Linked DNA regions of Homo sapiens. The protein of the gene in region 1 purifies or fractionates together with the protein of each later gene. This does not show direct contact. Each region holds a gene or a part of one and is shown in the gene's direction. Other genes may lie near its edges.

Region 1 (4,011 bases):
ACATTTTAAATGTATCCCTAAACTAGTTTGTGTAGGTACTGAATACCTACACTGTATGAGATACCCTTGGAATGCTAAGAGCTTAACTTAGAAGCCTAAAACACAGAGTATGCAATGTAACATCTCACCACCTGCTACCATTCTCATTACAGGCCTTACCAATCATCATTTTCTTTGGATGTGTGGTGTCCATTCTCTACTACCTGGGCCTTGTGCAATGGGTAGTTCAGAAGGTGAGTCGTTCTCTTACACCAGTCAGGAGACAGGCCTTCATCCTGTCATCAGTCAGCTTTGGAAAAATGCCCATAGCTAAGGTCTAGAGTGTTAGAAACAATGGGAAAAGGCAGGCCCTCTCAAGCATGCCTGATAGCAAACTGTCAGCCGAGGCCCTAGGTAGGCTGAGGGCAGAGCAGAGAGAAGATGAGCTGGACTGCCTTTGATACTGAGTTTTAATGTACTTGTTCTAAAGGCAACGAGTCCTGAGTTCTGGTCAAGGCTCTGTTTCTAAGTTGGTTTTTGGCCCTAGGCTTGCTGCTCTACTTCTCTAGGCCTCAGTTTCCTTATCAGTAAAGTGGAGGAGGAGGAGTTTTGCGAGATGTTCTCCAAGATTCCTGCTAACATTAATGGTTTAGGTTTCTGTATTCTTCTAGGTCGCCTGGTTTTTACAAATCACTATGGGCACCACTGCTACAGAGACCCTGGCTGTGGCAGGAAACATCTTTGTGGGTATGGTAAGCACCTTGAGGACTTTTGGTCTTCTTCCCTCTGAGGAACTGAGAATTTGGCACAAAACAAGAGTATGCTTTCCTTCTGAAAAGTCAAATAAATGAAGACTGTGGGGCAGCCAATCTTGGATGAGAGATAACTCAGCAGCTCAAAGAAGACTCTGCTCATTGCGTTCACCCTTTGCGCCTAATAATACTTCCCTGGTAATACTTAATCTGGAGGGATAGCCTTCACCACTTCTAATGAACACTTCCTACGTAGGAATGTAGGGAATGTCCTCGTCCAATTCATATCCCCTTTCGGAGGCTATGAAGGGTGTTTGATCCTCATTCTGGTTTCTCCCTGTGACTCCCTGCAGTACTTGGTTTCCAGGGTCTCTAAGGAGGAAATCACTTATCTTGCTCATCGCTAACGCCCAGGCTCTTCCCCATAATACTTGCTTGGTACATTCGTCTGTATGGAGTAGGTGCTCCATATGTGCTACTGACTGATCAGCTCAATGTTGGGGACAATGACTTGTCACATTCGCAGGGAGTTAGTACTGAGGTCTTTCTCTCCCAAGGCTCTAGGCTGCTTCTGAAATGTTCTCAGAGTACTTCTGGATACTTTACCATAGCACTCCACATTTTGCTGAAATTATCCATAATCAGCCTAGTTTCCTATGTGAGACTATAAGCTTCTAAGAGTAAGGACTTTGCCTTACCTATATCAATGTCCTTAGCATCTAGTGCAGTGCTAGGCACATAGTTGGTACTTGTTAAATAATAGATACCATTATCTTAGGTCAGTGCTGGATATGGCTTACATAGATGGCCCTTCATAATTTCATAACATTTTCACAAACATTATTTCTTTTGATCCATAAGCAGGGGGTTTGGATCATCTATTTGTATTTCATTTAATGAGTACTGTTTAAGCATCTAATATGTTCTCATTAAGTGCACTGCATTCCGTAAGTTCAGTAAGTGTGTGGCTTTAGACATTGAGAATATACAAACAAAATATACCATTTCTCTTCTATAACATTTTAACATGTCAATAGATGAAACAAGCATGTATAGAAACAGGTGAGAACTATGCCAGCCAGGACATGATTGGGTGCCAGAGGAAGTAAGGCAGAAGCTGGATGGGCCTGACAGCCGGGCTCCGTGCTCACTAAGTGAAGCTGTGGCTCACTTAACAGTGCTCACACTGGATGGATGTGTATCTAGTGGGTCCAGCCCCTGGGGCTGGGGTGGGCACACTGGCATGGGGAGTTACACCTTCTTGGAATCTGACTGTTTTCTCCGTGTTTGTAGACAGAGGCACCTCTGCTCATCCGTCCCTACCTTGGGGACATGACACTCTCTGAAATCCATGCGGTGATGACTGGAGGGTTTGCCACCATTTCTGGCACTGTGCTGGGAGCCTTCATAGCCTTTGGGGTAGGCATAGTCTGCTTGATCACTCCTGGGTGAACTCGAGTTGGGTTTGATAGAAACACTGATGCCTAAGTCTGGCGCCTCACAGGTTGATGCATCATCCCTGATTTCTGCCTCTGTGATGGCCGCCCCTTGTGCTCTCGCCTCATCAAAGCTAGCGTATCCGGAAGTGGAGGAGTCCAAGTTCAAGAGTGAGGAGGGGGTAAAGCTGCCCCGTGGGTGAGTCCAAGGAGGCATATACTTTGGGAGATGGTGAGCTGTAGTTAAGAGTGGCACTGTGGTGGCAGAGACTTCAAGTCTCCCTGAGGGGGAATAATGTGATTCCATATTCCTTCTTGCCTATCTCTGGTGCTTGCTAATCATGCTGGTTTTCTTCATTTAACCCTCCCACCTGGCACTAGCTTCTGCATGCCAGTACCCTCTGTCCTTGCCATCCATGCAATTACATGACAATTATATCTGATATTGCTTCAGAGTAATTTCCACTAATAGGGTCACTGAGGAACCCCTGTCACCTTCTACATTGGCCTTGCACCCTCCTCCTGCACGATAGGGACAGTGGGATTTCTCTTCTCTGAGGGGCTGAGACTGCTGTAGACACCCTACTCTTGCCCTCTGCCCAATAACCACAGGAAGGAGAGGAATGTCCTGGAAGCTGCCAGCAACGGAGCCGTAGATGCCATAGGCCTTGCTACTAATGTAGCAGCCAACCTGATTGCCTTTTTGGCTGTGTTGGCCTTCATCAATGCTGCCCTCTCCTGGCTGGGGGAATTGGTGGACATACAGGGGCTCACTTTCCAGGTAAAGGATTACATTTGTTGGGCTGTCCCTCTGGGATGTGGTTAGGTAGCCCTTCAAACATGCATGTCCAAATCAAAACCACAATGAGATACCATCTCACACCAGTTAGAATGGCAATCATTAAAAAGTCAGGAAACAACAGGTGCTGGAGAGGATGTGGAGAAATAGGAACACTTTTACACTGTTGGTAGGACTGTAAACTAGTTCAACTATTGTGGAAGTCAGTGTGGTGACTCCTCAGGGATCTAGAACTAGAAATACCATTTGACCCAGCCATCCCATTACTGGGTATATACCCAAAGGACTATAAATCATGCTGCTATAAAGACACATGCACACGTATGTTTATTGCGGCACTATTCACATTAGCAAAGACTTGGAACCAATCCAAATGTCCAACAATGATAGACTGGATTAAGAAAATGTGGCATATATACACCATGGAATACTATGCAGCCATAAAAAATGATGAGTTCACGTCCTTTGTAGGGACATGGATGAAATTGGAAATCATCATTCTCAGTAAACTATTGCAAGGACAAAAAACCAAACACCACATGTTCTCACTCATAGGTGGGAATTGAACAATGGGAACACATGGACACAGGAAAGGGAACATCACACTCTGGGGACTGTTGTGGGGTGGGGGGAGGGGGGAGGGATGGCATTAGGAGATATACCTAATGCTAAATGACGAGTTGATGGGTGCAGCACACCAGCATGCCACATGTATACATATGTAACTAACCTGCACATTGTGCACATGTACCCTAAGACTTAAAGTATAATAATAATAAAAAAAAAACAACCATGCATGTCCTTCTGACCCACAGTAAGCCAAGAGAGAGCATGAATAGAAGGGTGGAAGAGATTGGGCCAAGGCTCCAGAGAAGGTCCTTGGCACCTGACCTTTGTTATATTAGTCCTTCCTTTTCCTGTGATATCTCTCTTTCACTCAGGTCATCTGCTCCTATCTCCTAAGGCCCATGGTTTTCATGATGGGTGTAGAGTGGACAGACTGTCCAATGGTGGCTGAGATGGTGGGAATCAAGTTCTTCATAAA
Region 2 (4,011 bases), on another chromosome or scaffold:
GTGTCTTTTTACAGGCTGTTTTGTAGAAATGATTTGTTTAAGTTTATCTTTGCTGGCTTTAGTTTGGTACTTTGGTAGTTTTTTCAAAAATTATCTTTTTAATCTAGATTATCAGCTACATTTGCATTGGGAAGCAAATTTTATCTTCATCTGATACTATTTCCCCCCCTTTCATATTTTGTGGATTTTTACATTTAGGTCCACTTTCACCTTTTTGACCACTACGTCCTAGCCCAAGTAGGCATCCTGTAGAGCACATTTAAACATGGTGTTCCTTAACATTTTATAAATGGCTATACAGTTCACTTTTAAAAATATATTTTAATGGAATTTTAAAGTACATGCATAACTCTTGAAGCACTGCCATAGCATACTTTAAAAAGTTATTTGCATTAATTATTCGTACTGTTTAAAAGCAGTACAAAGCAGATAATGTAGTACAATACAGTTCAGAAATAGACCTAAGTTTATACAATCATGTGCCACTTAAGAGGGATATGACCTGAAAAATGTGTTGTTAGACAATTTCATTGTTGTGTACACATCACAGAGTGTATTTACACAAACATAAATGATATAACCTACTACACACCTACACTCTATGGTATATAGCCCGTTGGTCTTAGGCTACGAAACTCTGGCATTGTGTTAACTATACTGAATACTGAGGCACTTGTAACACAATGGTAAGTATTTGTGTAGGCAAACATATCTAAACATAGAAAAGGTACAGTAAAAATAGGGTATAAAAGATAAAACATGGTATACCTGTATGGGGTACCTACCATGAATGGCATTTGCAGGACTGGAAATTGCTCTGGGTGAGTTAGTGAGTGAATGTAAAGGCCTAGAACATTACCATCGTATTTTATAAACTCGTACTTTAGACCTTATAAACACTGTACACTTAGGCTATACTAAGTTTATAAGAACATTTTATCTTTCTTTAATAATAAATTAACCTTAGTTTGCTCTAGCTTTTACTTTTAAACTTTACAATTTTTAAAAACTTTTTGACTCTTGTAACGCCACTTAGCATAAAACAGACACGTTGCACAGCTGTACAAAAATACTTTCTTTATATCCTTATTCAATAAGCTTTTGTCTATTTTTAACATTTTTTTATGTTTTACTTTTTAAACTTTTAATTAAAAACTAAGACACAAACACATACATTAGTCTATGTCTAAACATGGTCAGAATCATCAGTATCACCGTTTTCTACCTTTACGTCTTGTCCCACTGGAAAGTCTTGAGGGGCAGTAACACACACACAGCTGTCATAGGCAATGTGTGTATTATAGGCTGAGGCCTACGATAACAGTTCCTTCTTCTGAAATACCTCCTGAGGAAACTGCCTGAGGCTGTTTTATAATTAACTTAAAAAAAATTAGAGTACACTCTAAAATAATGATAAAGAGTATAGTATAGTAAATATGTAAACTAGTAACAGTCGTTTGCCACCATATTCAAGTATTATGCTGTACATAATTGTGCGTGCCATACTTTTATATGACTGGACTGGCAGCACAATCGGTTTGTTTACACCAGTATCACCATGTGAGTAATGTATTATGATAGTTATAAGGTCACTAAGCAATAGGAATTTTTCAGGTTTATTAAAATCTTAGGGGACCACTTTTGTATATAGTCATTGTTGACCAAAACATTGTTCTGTGGTGGCTGACTTTATGAGGATTTTAATGGATCACAAAGGAGTTGTTTTAAATCAAGGAATAAAACAAGTTATTCAGTAAATGATGTTGGGGCAATTGACTAGCTATTTGGAAAAAAGACAGCATTATGTCTTTTTTAAATATCCAAATAAATTAAATTGGATGAATTTTTTTTCTTTTTTTAATACATAAAACATTTAATACATGCTACAAAATTCTTTTTTTTAAATAGTAAAATCCTAGGGATTTAAAAAAAATAGTCTTAATATTGAGAGGGCTTTTTAAGGTATGGCACGATATTCATAAAGGAAAATATTGGTAAATTCCAGTACATGAAAAATTTAAAACTTGTTGATGACAAAAACAAAAGAACAACAACAACCCCTTTCTCTCCAATAAAAGGTGCATCATAAAATCAAAATCCAATCGGGGAAAATATTTTGCCCAAAATATCACCAAACTTCATTCAATTAGAAAAATACAAGCAGGCCAGATTGTGAAAAAAGTCAAACATTTCACTTCTAATAGAAAGTCACACAAGATGTACAAATACACAAGATTGTTCATATCTGTAGAAATTGCTTTAATTATGCTAAATATATAATATATATGGCCATTCAAGAAAAGTGACATTTATTGGTATGGACATCGAGAGATATTTATGAAAAGAATTGGGTTAATAATTTAACCATGAAGTTATAAACTAGTATGTTTCCGTATACATACCATACATATTTATATACAGAAGTTCTTTCAGTATGTGTGTAGAAAAATATATGTAGGATTTAACTCCGAATTCCTCACAGAATAGTGGTTATCTCTTAGGGCTAGGGATAATCATGGACTGCTTTTTTACATTACGTGGCCTGAAATTTTGAATCTTTGTAAAAAGTGAAATGGGTGGGTTACAGAAGGAATTGTTTAAACTTTAAAGATTTTATGTTGCAATTACCTGAAATATTGGTTTCTTGAACTTTTCTAATATAAAACAATAGTTTTATCAAAATGAAAGTAATTATGGAATATGTTTCTTATAACATCAGAAGTTCTTAGTTTTCCTGAGTAAATTTACATCTTTACAAAGCAAAAACTCAGTTCTTTCAAAAATTTACACAGCCTAATTCTCAAGTTTGTAATGGAGCAATGTTAATAAAAAGTTTGTAAATCATTTTGTAATTAAAGTTGAAACTTTAGAAAGTTGTAGCCTCATCTTATAGATTTGAGGAGCTGTGTGCTGAATATAGAGATGTGTAAAGTTAGATCATCAGAAATTTTTGTCAGTAACTTATTTTTGAAAATGTCAGTAACTCTTTTGCTTTTTAGGTGAATTTTTTTTAGCTGAATGTAAGGATGAGTTTTATGAGTAGGTATTTTGCATTAAACAGTTGGAATTCCTTATAGAATATGATACATTTTTATGTAACAGTGATAGCTTCAAAAAATTGCAAATTGTCCTGGAACTAAAATACATATAAGTACTTTTTAAAAAAATTCTAGTTGTATGACATTGTGACAAAAATTCTCTGAGCAGCATTTGAACAGGCATGAAATCTTTTAAATTTATCATAAATTTATATGTGCAGGTTTAAAATTTATACCTGGGGATTTTAATACCACACAACTTATGTCAAATATCATTGAATATGTAATTGTTTCTACATTTCACATTATGCTGTACTTTGAGATTGTATTATAAATCTTGTGTGAGTATAAGTTATTTGGCAATATGTTGCTAACACTGATTTACCTTAGTTCATGTTACTCTAATTTGAATGCAGTTTCCAAACCAGCCACTTAATATAGCAAGTACTTAGACATGACTATTTTTTAAGTTCACGTTTTATATTCAGTTATAAAAGTTTGGTAGGAAAAACTGTTTTTCAATAGAAGAGTTCAGAGGGGTTTTTTTTCCTTTCATTGAGACACTTATATTTTGTTTTAGTTTTATAATAAACATTTTATGGTAGTTGGTCATTTGATGTAATTTGAAAATAATATACTTTACACATGCAAAATTATTATTAAAGATTAATAATTATATACCATTTGTAAATGAACAGTAATTGAAATAAAATATATTTAGCATATTGATCCTAATTTAGACATTGATTCAGACATTAAAACTAGGATCTTGAAGTACCTTGGGATTGTCATCTTAAACAGCAGTTGTCATTGTGTTATAAACATGTAGACATATTTCTTTTAGTCAAATATTGGCCAGTAGTGAAATAGCTATATTTTATTATGAGAAATTATTCTTGTTTTCTTTTTAAAGGAATTTGCAATTACTAGTCTGATTGTAGGAGTAAATAACCATAAAAAGTAAAGTGTAAAT

What was found. Proteins that work in one complex are often made in the same cells at the same time.
Region 2: the proteins of SLC28A2 (region 1) and RBM26 purify together in Homo sapiens (affinity purification with mass spectrometry; one large-scale study listed by BioGRID and IntAct). This does not show direct contact.

What each region holds. Positions count from the first base shown.
Region 1 is NC_000015.10:45,265,431-45,269,441, forward strand, and holds part of SLC28A2 (sodium/nucleoside cotransporter 2), read left to right. Parts: intron 1-152; coding exon 153-233; intron 234-650; coding exon 651-731; intron 732-2,024; coding exon 2,025-2,150; intron 2,151-2,235; coding exon 2,236-2,366; intron 2,367-2,779; coding exon 2,780-2,948; intron 2,949-3,907; coding exon 3,908-4,011.
Region 2 is NC_000013.11:79,322,628-79,326,638, reverse strand, and holds part of RBM26 (RNA-binding protein 26), read left to right. Parts: intron 1-4,011. UniProt on the Homo sapiens protein: May be involved in the turnover of nuclear polyadenylated (pA+) RNA.